Linked DNA regions of Homo sapiens: region 1 is linked to region 2. Evidence: fine-mapped expression QTL. A gene starts in region 2. The other region holds a variant in brackets. All regions are shown on one strand. Distances are between the middles of the regions. Region 1 overlaps AAMDC (adipogenesis associated Mth938 domain containing). Region 2 holds the start of AAMDC (adipogenesis associated Mth938 domain containing).

What was found. PIP is the estimated chance that this variant, and not a neighbour inherited with it, causes the effect.
Region 1: its variant is the best candidate, but not a certain one, in a credible set for the expression of AAMDC in whole blood (INTERVAL, PIP 0.67).

What each region holds. Positions count from the first base shown.
Region 1 is chr11:77,850,600-77,855,825 of GRCh38, reverse strand. The region is part of intron 2 of AAMDC (adipogenesis associated Mth938 domain containing); the gene reads right to left. It also overlaps a transcript of RSF1 not described here. Among named protein-coding and RNA genes, the nearest start is that of AAMDC, 32 kb to the right of the region's middle. The variant G/A (reference allele first, on the strand shown) is at 2,264.
Region 2 is chr11:77,818,663-77,823,662 of GRCh38, reverse strand. AAMDC (adipogenesis associated Mth938 domain containing) reads right to left here and starts at 2,519. Exons shown (of 4, transcript NM_024684.4): 1 at 2,422-2,519. RSF1 (remodeling and spacing factor 1) reads left to right here and starts at 2,941. Exons shown (of 16, transcript NM_016578.4): 1 at 2,941-3,135. The coding sequence starts at 2,949. RefSeq lists silencers at 2,482-2,641, 3,232-3,321, 3,462-3,551 and enhancers at 2,742-2,881, 2,892-3,061, 2,614-3,586, 4,182-4,291, 3,587-4,560.

The sequences.
Region 1 (5,226 bases), 32 kb before region 2:
ACTTGGCTGGTGGAAGAAATTTTTAAGCAGCAAAACACTCAAGACATGGTCTGGCTGCCTCTAGCAGCCTATGCTCATATTCTTGAGCAAAAAAAAAAAAAAAAAGACATAAAACTGGAACTTACATTTAAAAGGGAAGCAGATTATAAAGGTTTGAAAAATTTGCAGCCTGGTCATGTGGCATAAAAGAAAAAAAAGGCCAGGCGTGGTGGCTCACACCTGTAATCCCAGCACTTTGGGAGGCCAAGACGGGTGGATCATGAGGTTAGGAGATCGCGACCATCCTGGCTAACACGGTGACACCCCGTCTCTACTAAAAATACAAAAAAAAAGAAAAAGTTACCTGGGTGTGGTGGCAGGCACCTGTAGTCCCAGCTACTTGGGAGGCTGAGGCAGGAGAATGGCATGAACCTGGGAGGTGGAGGTTGCAGTGAGCCGAGATCGCGCCACTGCACTCCAGCCTGGGCAACAGAGTGAGACTCTGTCTCAAAACAAAAAAAGAAAAAAACAAAACTTTTTCAGGAGAGGAATTCAAGCCAGCTGTAGAAATTTGCATATGTAAAGAGGAGCCAAATATTCATAACCAAGATAATGGAGAAAATTCCTGGAAGGAATTTCAGAGACCTTCACAGTAGCTCCTCCCATCACAGGCCTGGAGGCCTAGGAGGAAATAATGGTTTTGTGGGACAGGTACAAGGCCTCACTGCTCTGTGCAGCCTCAGGTCATAGCACCCTGCATCACGGCCACTCCAGCTCTAGCTATGGTTAAAAGGGGCCAAGGTACAGTTCAGGCTGATGCTTCAGAGGGTGCAAGCCATAGGCCTTGGTGGCTTCCATGAGGTGTTAAGCCAGTGGGTGCACAGAGTGTGACAATTGAGGCTTGGGAGCCTCTGCCTAGTTTTTAGAGGATGTATGGAAATGCCTGATGTCCAGGCAGAAGTCTGCTGGGGGTGCGTAGCCCTCATGGAAAACCTCTACAATAGCAGTATGGAGGGCAAATGTGGGGTTGGAGCCCCTACACAGAGTCCCCACTGGGACAGTGGTTAATGGAGGTGTGAGAAGAGGGCCACCATCCTCCAGACATGAGAATGGTAGATCCACCAACGGCTTGCACCATGCACCTGGAAAACCCGCAGGCACTCAATGCCAGCCCACGAAAGCAGCCACAGGGGTTGCACCCTGCAGAGCCACAGAGGCAGAGCTGCCCAAAGCCTTGGGAACCCACCCCTTGCATCAGTGTTACCTGGATGTGAGACATGGAGCCAAAGGATATTATTTTGGAGTTTTAAGTTTTAATTACTGCCCTGCTGGGTTTCAGACTTGCATGGGCCTGTAGCTTCTTTGTTTTGGATAATTTCTCACTTTTGGAATGGAAGTATTTAGCCAATGCCTATAACCCCATTGTATCTTGGAAGTAACTAACTGTTTTTGATCTTATAGGCTCATAGGCAGAAGAGACTTGCCTTGTATGAGATGAGACTTTGGACTGTGGACTTTTCAGTTAATGCTGGAATGTGTTAAGAATTTGGAGGATAGCCGGGCACGGTGGCTCACGCCTGTAATCCCAGCACTTTGGGAGGCTGAGACGGGTGGATCATGAGGTCAGGAGATCGAGCCAATCCTGGCTAACACGATGAAACCCCGTCTCTACTACAAATACAAAAAAAATTAGCTGGGTGTGGTGGCGGGCGCCTGTAGTCCCAGCTACTCAGGAGGCTGAGGCAGGAGAATGGTGTGAACCTGGGAGGTGGAGGTTGCAGTGAGCCAAGATGGCACCACTGCACTCCAGCCTGGGCAACGGAGCGAGAGTCTGTCTCAAAAAAAAAAAAAAAGAATTTGGAGGACTGTTGGGAAGGCATGGTTGTATTTATTTGTTTATTTTTTTGAGACGGAGTCTCACTCTGTCACTCAGGCTGGAGTACAGTGGTGCAATCTCAGCTCACTGCCACCTCCACCTCCTGGGTTCAAGCAATTCTCCTGCCTCAGCCTACCAAGTAGCTGGGATTACAGGGGTGCACCACCATGCCCAGCTAATTTTTATATTTTTAGTAGAGACAGGGTTTCATCATGTTGGCCAGGCTGGTCTTGAACTCCTCACCTGAAGCAATCCATCCACTTTGGCCTCCCAAAGTGCTGGGATTACAGGGGTGAGCCACTGCCTGGCATGGCTGTAATTTGAAATGTGAGAAGGACATGAGATTTGGGAGGGGCCAGATGCAGAATGATATGGTTTGAATTTGTGTCCCTGACCAAATCTCATATC[G/A]AATTATAATCCCCAGTGTTGGAGAAGGGGCCTGGTGTGAGGCCACTAGATCATGGGGCCAATATCCCCCTTGCTGTTCTCGTGATAGTGAGTGAATTCTCATGAGTTCTGGTTGTTTAAAAGTATATAGCACCTCCCCACTCTCCTGCCTCCTGCTCTGGCCATGTAAGACATGCCAGCTTCCTCTTTGCCTTCTGCCATGATTGTAAGTTTCCTGAGGCCTCCCTAGCAATGCTTCCTGTACAGCCTATGGAAACCTGAGCCAATGAAACCTCTTTTCTTTAGAAACTAACCAGTCTCAGGTAGTTCTTTATAGCAATGCAAGAATGGACTAATACAAATACTGTTCACTTTTACTAACAAATTTAAACATTTCTACATTTTAAAATTGGCCTTTTCATAAATTGTTAGTAATACTAAAATACGGTACAACCCCCAAAAAGGGGAATTTGGCAATATCTAACAAATCTACATTTACATTTACTCTTTAAGCACAATCTCAGTTCTAAAAATTTACCCTGGATATACACTTTCAACAATACAAAAAAAAATGTACATGGTTATTCAATGTAGTATTGTTTATAGTACTAAAATATTGAAAGCAATCGAGTACCCATCCCTTAGGACTAAAGTGAATAAACAATATTACATTCACAAAGTTGGTTACTATACAGTGGTAAAAAAGAAAAAGACATATCTCTATGAACTGATATCATGATTTTCTGTATATATTAAGTGAACAGAATATAAAGAAGTAAGGCATGCTACCTTTTGCGTATGGAAAATGGGAAAAAAAGAAAAAAAATTATTTATATATGTATTTTTGTATTTGCTTATTTTTTCCAGAAAAATACAAAAAAGGATAAACCGGAAACTAATACAAAATAATTACCTACATGGAGTGAGGTGGGAATGTGATGGAAGAGATAGGGAGGTGAATAAGACTTTCTAAGTGTATCTATGATATGGTTTGGATTTGTGTCCCTGCGCAAATCTCATGTTGAATTGTAATCCCCAGTGTTGGAGGAGGGACCTGATGGGAGGTGACTGGATCATGGATGTGGATATCTCTCTTGCTGTTCTGGTGATAGTGAACAGCAAGTGACTGTCATAGTTTGAAGTTTGAATTCTGAATCATGTAAATATTTTACATGATTCAGAAAGTTAAAATCAAGACAGACAGGAAATGGGAGGCATCTAAAATTGTATGCCAACAGAAACAAATAAACCAAATTCCGTATGTCAAATTGACAACATTAAAAATGATCATTAATTTCAGTGACTTTTTCTTTCTTTTTCTTTGAACTTCTTCTTCTTCTTCTTTTTTTTTTTTTTTTTGAGACAGTGTCTCATTCTGTTGGCCAGGCTGGAGTGAAGCTCACTGCAGCCTTGACCTCCTGGGCACAAGTGATCCTCCCATCTCGTCCCTCGTCCTCCCAAAGTGCTGGGATTACAGATGTGAGCCACTATGGCTGCCCACAACTACTTCCAAATTATTTAGTAAAAATAATTATGAGAAGGAGAGAAGAGGGCCACAGAGGACTAGATAAAGCAAATGTGGCAGAATGTTAACAACTAGTGAATCTGAATTGATGGTATGCAACTGTTTATTCTATTTCTTTTATAATTTGTTGGATCACAGTTTGAAAATATTCAAATTCAAGAAGTTCAACAGAGGCCTTTCTTACTTTGCTATAAAGAAATACCTGAGATGGTAATTTATAAACAAAAGAGGTTTAATTGCTTCACAGTTCTGCAGGCTGTACAAGCATGATACCAGCATCTGCTTGACTTCTGAGGAGGCCTTAGGGAGCTTTTACCCATGGCAGAACGTGAAGTGGGAGTAGGCATGTCATATGATGAAAGCAGGAGCAAGGTTGGGGGAGGTACCACACACTTTTAAATAACCAGATCTCTTGACAACTCACTCACTATCACCAAGACAGCACTAAGTTATTCATGAGGGAACTGCCCACATGACCCAATTACCTCCCACCAAGCCCCACCTCCAACATTGGGGATTACATTTCAACAAAAGATTTGGGTGGGGACAAATATCCAACTATATCAGCCTTCCACAACAACCAGCTTTAGAAGGTGAATAGGAAAACAAAAGCAAAAGCAAACAAAAACACAAGGAACAGCTAGGAACAGCTCATCAATCTTTCCTTAAGAAGAACTGTCTTGAGCAGAAGAAACTCTAGCCTGGTCAATTGTACAATTCTCTGAGAATCAACAAAAGTTATAGAGAACATTCTTGGGACACTGGGGAAATCTGAAGACAGACTGTATATTAGATATTATTGTATCGGCCGGGCGCAGTGGCTCACGCCTGTAATCCCAGCACTTTGGGAGGCCGAGGCAGGTGGATCACGAGGTCAGGAGTTCAAGACCAGCCTGGCCAAGATGGTGAAACCCTGTCTCTACTAAAAATACAAAAATTAGCCGGGCGTGGTGGCATGTGCCTATAATCCCTGCTACTCAGGAGGATGAGGCAGATAATTGCTTGACCCCAGGAGGTGGAGGTTACAGTGAGCCGAGATCGTGCCACTGCACTCCAGCCTGGGCCACAGAGCGAGACTCCATCTCAAAAAAAAAAAAAAAAAAAAGATATTATTGTATCAATGATAATATCCTTGTTTTTGACAATAGAATTGTAGTTATAGAGGAGAATATTCATGTCCTTAGGAGAGAAATACTGAAATGTCGTATCTGTGATTTATTGTCAAATGACAGGGGGACAAAGTGTGAGTGTATGTGTGTGTGTGTGTGTGTGTATGTGTGTGTATGTGTGTGTGTGTTTAGAGTGAGAAAAGAAACAAACATGGTAAAATGTTAACAACTTGAGGATTTAGGTAAAGGATATATGGAAATGTATTATATTATTCACATAACTATTCTGTAGGTTTAACATTTTTCAAAATAAAAAGTTGGGGTAAACATTTCCATAGTTCCTTTAGTTT
Region 2 (5,000 bases):
TATTCTGGGTCAAATTATTCTTTTTTTTTTTTTTTTTTTTTGAGACAGGGTGTAGTTCTGTCGCCCAGGCTGGAGTGCAGTGGCAACTACATGGGATTACAGATGAGGTCTCACTACCTTGCCCAGGCTGGTCTCGAACTCCTTGGCTCAAGGGGTCCTCCTGCTCGGCCTCCCAGAGTGCTTGGATTACAGGCATGAGCCACCCCACCTCGCCCAGATTATTTTTAAACTGGAGTCTTCAGGTCCCCAGGGTCAAGAGATATACACTTGCCCGTTTGGGAATTCTATAAAAATGTTTTAGTTTAGTTTTGTGTTTCATTTCAGTAATTGCTTAAAAACAATATTTTCCGACTTATTAAATTAAAACTTCTTTGGCAGTGATAATTCATAACCATAAAGATATTTTCCTGAAGTAGGATTTTAATTTCTTTTTTTTTTTTTTTTTTTTGAGACGGAGTCTTGCTCTGTCGCCCAGGCTGGAGTGCAGTGGCACAACCTTGGCTCACTGCAAGCTCCGCCTCCCGGGTCCATGCCATTCTCCTGCCTCAGCCTCCCGAGTAGCTGTCTACAGGGGCCCGCCGCCACCACGCCCGGCTAATTTTTTGTATTTTTAGTAGAGACGGGTTTCACCGCGTTAGCCAGGATGGTCTTGATCTCCTGACCTCGTGACCCGCCCGTCTCGACCTCCCAAAGTGCTGGGATTACAGGCGTGAGCCACAGCGCCCGGCGGATTTTAATTTCTTAAAAGCTTTTTTATTGTCGTAAAATACATGTAACATAAAATATGCCATTTTAACCACTTTAAGTGTATACTTCAGTGGCATTAAGTACATTTACAGTGTTCTTTAGACTTTGATTTCTTACATCAGTATTTCTTACAGTGAAATTTTCAAAAGTATTTGCCAAGTTTCAAAAGAACTTTTTTCCTTTAAAAACGGTTTGTATACCACTCAAGACTATGAATCACTATTCAAGGCAATAAATTCTTCTTACAATATAGAATTTTTCTCTTGATAAATTGAGTATTCTTTCTTTAGATAATGGGAATAATACACACCCTTATGGTTTTTCCCCTTTTTAAAACCTGGAAATGAAGAAAAAAATTCGGTGTTTGTGTGACCATTTTCCCTGTTACTCATATAATTATTTGCCCATCTATTTCTTATCTTTCTATAATTACAGATTTCTCTTTTTTACATGGTTTGTGTTGTACCTTGCTTCAAATTCTTTTTTTTTTTTTTTTTTTTTGAGGTGGAGTCTTGCTCTGTCGCTCAGGCTGGAGTGCAGTGGCGCGACCTCGACTCACTGCAACCTTCGCCTCCCCGGTTCAAGGGGTTCTCCTGCATCAGCCTCCCAAGGATTCCCGGCTAATTTTCGTTATTTTTACTAGAGACGGGGTTTCACCATGTTGCCCAGGCTGGTCTGGAACTGCAGAGCTCAGGTGATGCACCCACCTCGGTTTCCCAAAGTGTTGGGATTACAGGCATGAGCCACCGCGCCCGGCCAAATTCTTTTTAGGAATTAGGTACTACATTGAGTTTTAAATGCACTCAGAAAATTCTCAAAGTAATAAATTATAGACTAAATAAATATAGCGGAATTCAGTCTAAATTATAGGAACTCCTTTTTTGATAACTAATATTTTTAAAGTACTCACTATGTGCTACGGCACTGTGCTAATCACTTTACTGTGATTTATCTAGTAATACCGTATGATGTAGGTACTATTATCACCCCACTCTAAGGAGTTCAAAGAAATAAAGAAACCTCCACAGTGTCATGAAGTAGCCCCGCTAGGACTCAGGCCTGGCTGAATCCAAAGCTCAGGCTTCTAAGCATAACGTGTACTGCTGCTTCTCAGGCTGCACATTCTATTTTACATTATTGGTAGTTTCTCTCTGGCGTTCTTTGTGGGAATGTTCACTGCCCCCGCCCCGCCCCGAAGTGGAACCCTGTCTTCTAACAAACTTTTCGCTGCTCCACCGTCTCCTGTCATGTTCCGCCTCTCAATGGAGTCCCAGCCCACACTCCGATTCTGGTCCCTGAACAGAGCCCCTTCCCCTCACACCATGGCCCCCTAGCAGAGCCTGGTCTCCTCAGATCCTCTTCTCCCAGCAGGGCCCCAACTCCTCACTCCGACGATTCCCCCAGAGTTCCGTTCCCTCAGATCCTGCTTTTCCAGCAAAGCTGCGATTCCTGTACCCCAGCAGAGAGCAATACCCCGTCGGCAAACTTCCACAGAGACATCTTACCGAGGTCCCAGCCCAGCCCCTAATTAAGGGCACACCTCTACCTTTCCCCTTCCCAACCTTCTCCCACAACTGTGCTTTCCCCCGCCCTATTCCCTTTTTCTGTTTATTAATTCTCCTCAACCTCTCCACCATCTCGTGGCCCAGTTTCAGGATTCCCCCGCAAACTCACCCACCGCACTGTCTCCTCAAAGTTGCGTTCCCAAACGGCGCAGTGCTCTGCCCGCACTTACGCTCCCAGCGCTGCTTCGGGATCTGCGCTCCCCAACTGCCCTCCGGGAATACGCCCTGCAGTTGAACAGCGCCCGAGGCCCCGCCCCCTCTGCGTCCATTGGCCATTGTTCTCGAGAAGTCCCGCCCCTCCCGCTTCCAGCCCGCCTCCCCGCCCCGCTTCCCTTGTTTTCATTCCCCCTGTCACACGAGGCAGTGGCAAGCCCGAAGGGGAGGAGAGAAGGGGGCGGAAAGAGGGCGGAAAGTGAAAGGCGCCGAGGGCCGCTCTGTCTCCCGTCTGACTCGGTTCTCGACTGCTCCGGGCCGCCGATGTATTGTGGGATCGCGGAGCCGTCCCTGAGACGCTGGGATCCGCAGAGGAGCCCACTTGAGAGCGCCTCCTGTCGTCTGTAAGGTTGCCTTGCCATCCCTCGGCACCACAACTTCCCCCGCCCCCCCATCGCCTCCTCCTCCATCCTCCAGTTCAAAATGGCGACGGCGGCGGCAGCGGCGGCGGTGATGGCTCCTCCGGGCTGCCCGGGTTCGTGCCCCAACTTCGCCGTAGTCTGCTCCTTCTTGGAGCGCTACGGGCCGCTGCTAGACCTGCCTGAGTTGCCGTTCCCTGAGCTGGAGCGGGTGCTGCAGGCGCCGCCGCCGGACGTCGGCAACGGAGAAGGTAAGCGAGGGGCCCGAACGCCCGGCGGGAAGCGGCCCTGGCGCTCTGCTACTCTCCGCTCTTCACAGGCGCCCCGGTTCTTCGCGGCTCGGGCCTCCGCGGCTCTGTCTTCCCCCTGGGACGCAACTCCGCCGGGCTGGTCTTCTCCGCCCAGCCCCCGGGGTCTTGGGCAGTGGGGAGGCGGGGCGGAGGCCCCCTAGGGCCACTCGGCCGGGCGGGGAGCTGAGGTGGAGGCGTTGCGGGCTAGGTGTGGGCTGGAGGCGGGGAGGGGTCATTGTGCCGGTCGGCAGCCCCGGGGACTGCTTCTCCGCGGCGGAGGGCGGCCCCCCACCCCGTCTCCCCCTTGGCGGCGGGGGAAGGGGAGCGCAGGTTCCGGCCAGCTTTGCGCTTTTCTCCTCCTCCCCACCCTTACTCCCTCCCCTCCTCCCACCAGTCTTCCCGACCATCTCGGGGAAGGCTGGGCTCGGCTGCTCCGGACACCTCCTTATCTCCCTTCACCTGGGTGGGCGGGGGCCAGCGGACACTCAACTCTCCCTCCCTCTGTTGGGAACTCCCCTGAGAGATTTGTCCCTTTTCCCTTCCCCTCGAGGGCTGCTTTAACCCCTAAAACTCCTTCCTTGAAGTGGGGAGGTCTGCTCCTCCCCCACGGGAGGGGGTTCTTCTCCATTCTCGGTAGGGGGGCGAAGTCGGTTCAGCTCCACTGTGGAGAGGAGAGGGTTAATTCCTCCTCCATAGTTCTCCTTCCTCTCCCCACCTCCCCCAAAATAATAGGCGAGCATCTCCCCACTTTTCCAATCCCTTCCCCCTTCATCTTGGCAGCCGGGCTTAGGCGAAGAAGTCGTCTCCCTCCCATTTGCACGGTAGGGTGGGGTGGTTAGTATGTAAGCTGGAGGAGGGGCTCTGACGGAGGGGGAAACAGTTGAAGAAGGTGCTTGTTGCTCATGTTTCTCTCTCTGGTGCCGCTGGTCTATTATTGGTGTTCGCAAGTGGTGCTCCTTCCACATAAGGCCACCGCGCGGGTGCAGGGCGCATGCTCTGCCCGGCCCCATTGAAACTTCCTGCTGCTGCTGCTGGTTCTTTTGCTGGAGCATCTCAGCGCTGCGCCTGCTGCCTCCAGCCTTCACACTGAGTGCTTATACTCACCCCCATTTATTCCCGATCCCTGCCTCTCCTTTTCTGGCACTTTTCTTTCCTCAGAGAAGGCTTTTTTGTTATACTCTGAGCATTGCCTTTATCTGGAAACAGCCCTTGGCTGGAGAAGAAACGTTTTCCAAATAGGTCTCTTTTTTTGTCCATATTAGCTGGCCAAAGTGGATTGGTTATTGTACAAGACAGATAGCTGTTTCCTTTCCAAGAAAGCAGGGTCGCTCTTCTATTCTCTATGTAAATGAAGAAGTTTCTGTTAACTGAATTTATTTGCATTGCTAGGAAGCGCCAAGTATGAAGTTCTTCAGAATATTACCTATAAAGAATCTGTATGATGTTATGGCTACCGAAGACTCAAATTAATACAGCAGTTATAATATAAGCCTAGTAATCTGTTCTTACCTGTCCACATTCCCTCTACCTGTAACAAACTGGCTTACAAAAGGCTAATTTAAAAAATAGTACAAAATAGGAGGGTGACTAATTACATTATATAAAGGCTTCTCACAGAATTTGTTTAAAAATTAAGCTCCCATTGTAGTAATTTCATTATCAAATTGTATTTACATTCTTTTTTATATTTTTTATTTTTATTTGTTTTTTGAGACGGAGTCTCACTCTGTTGCCCAGGCAGGAATGCAGTGGCAGGATCTGGGCTCACTGCTACCTCCGCCTCCCAGGTTCAAGCGATTCTCCTGCCCCAGCCTCCCGAGTAGCTG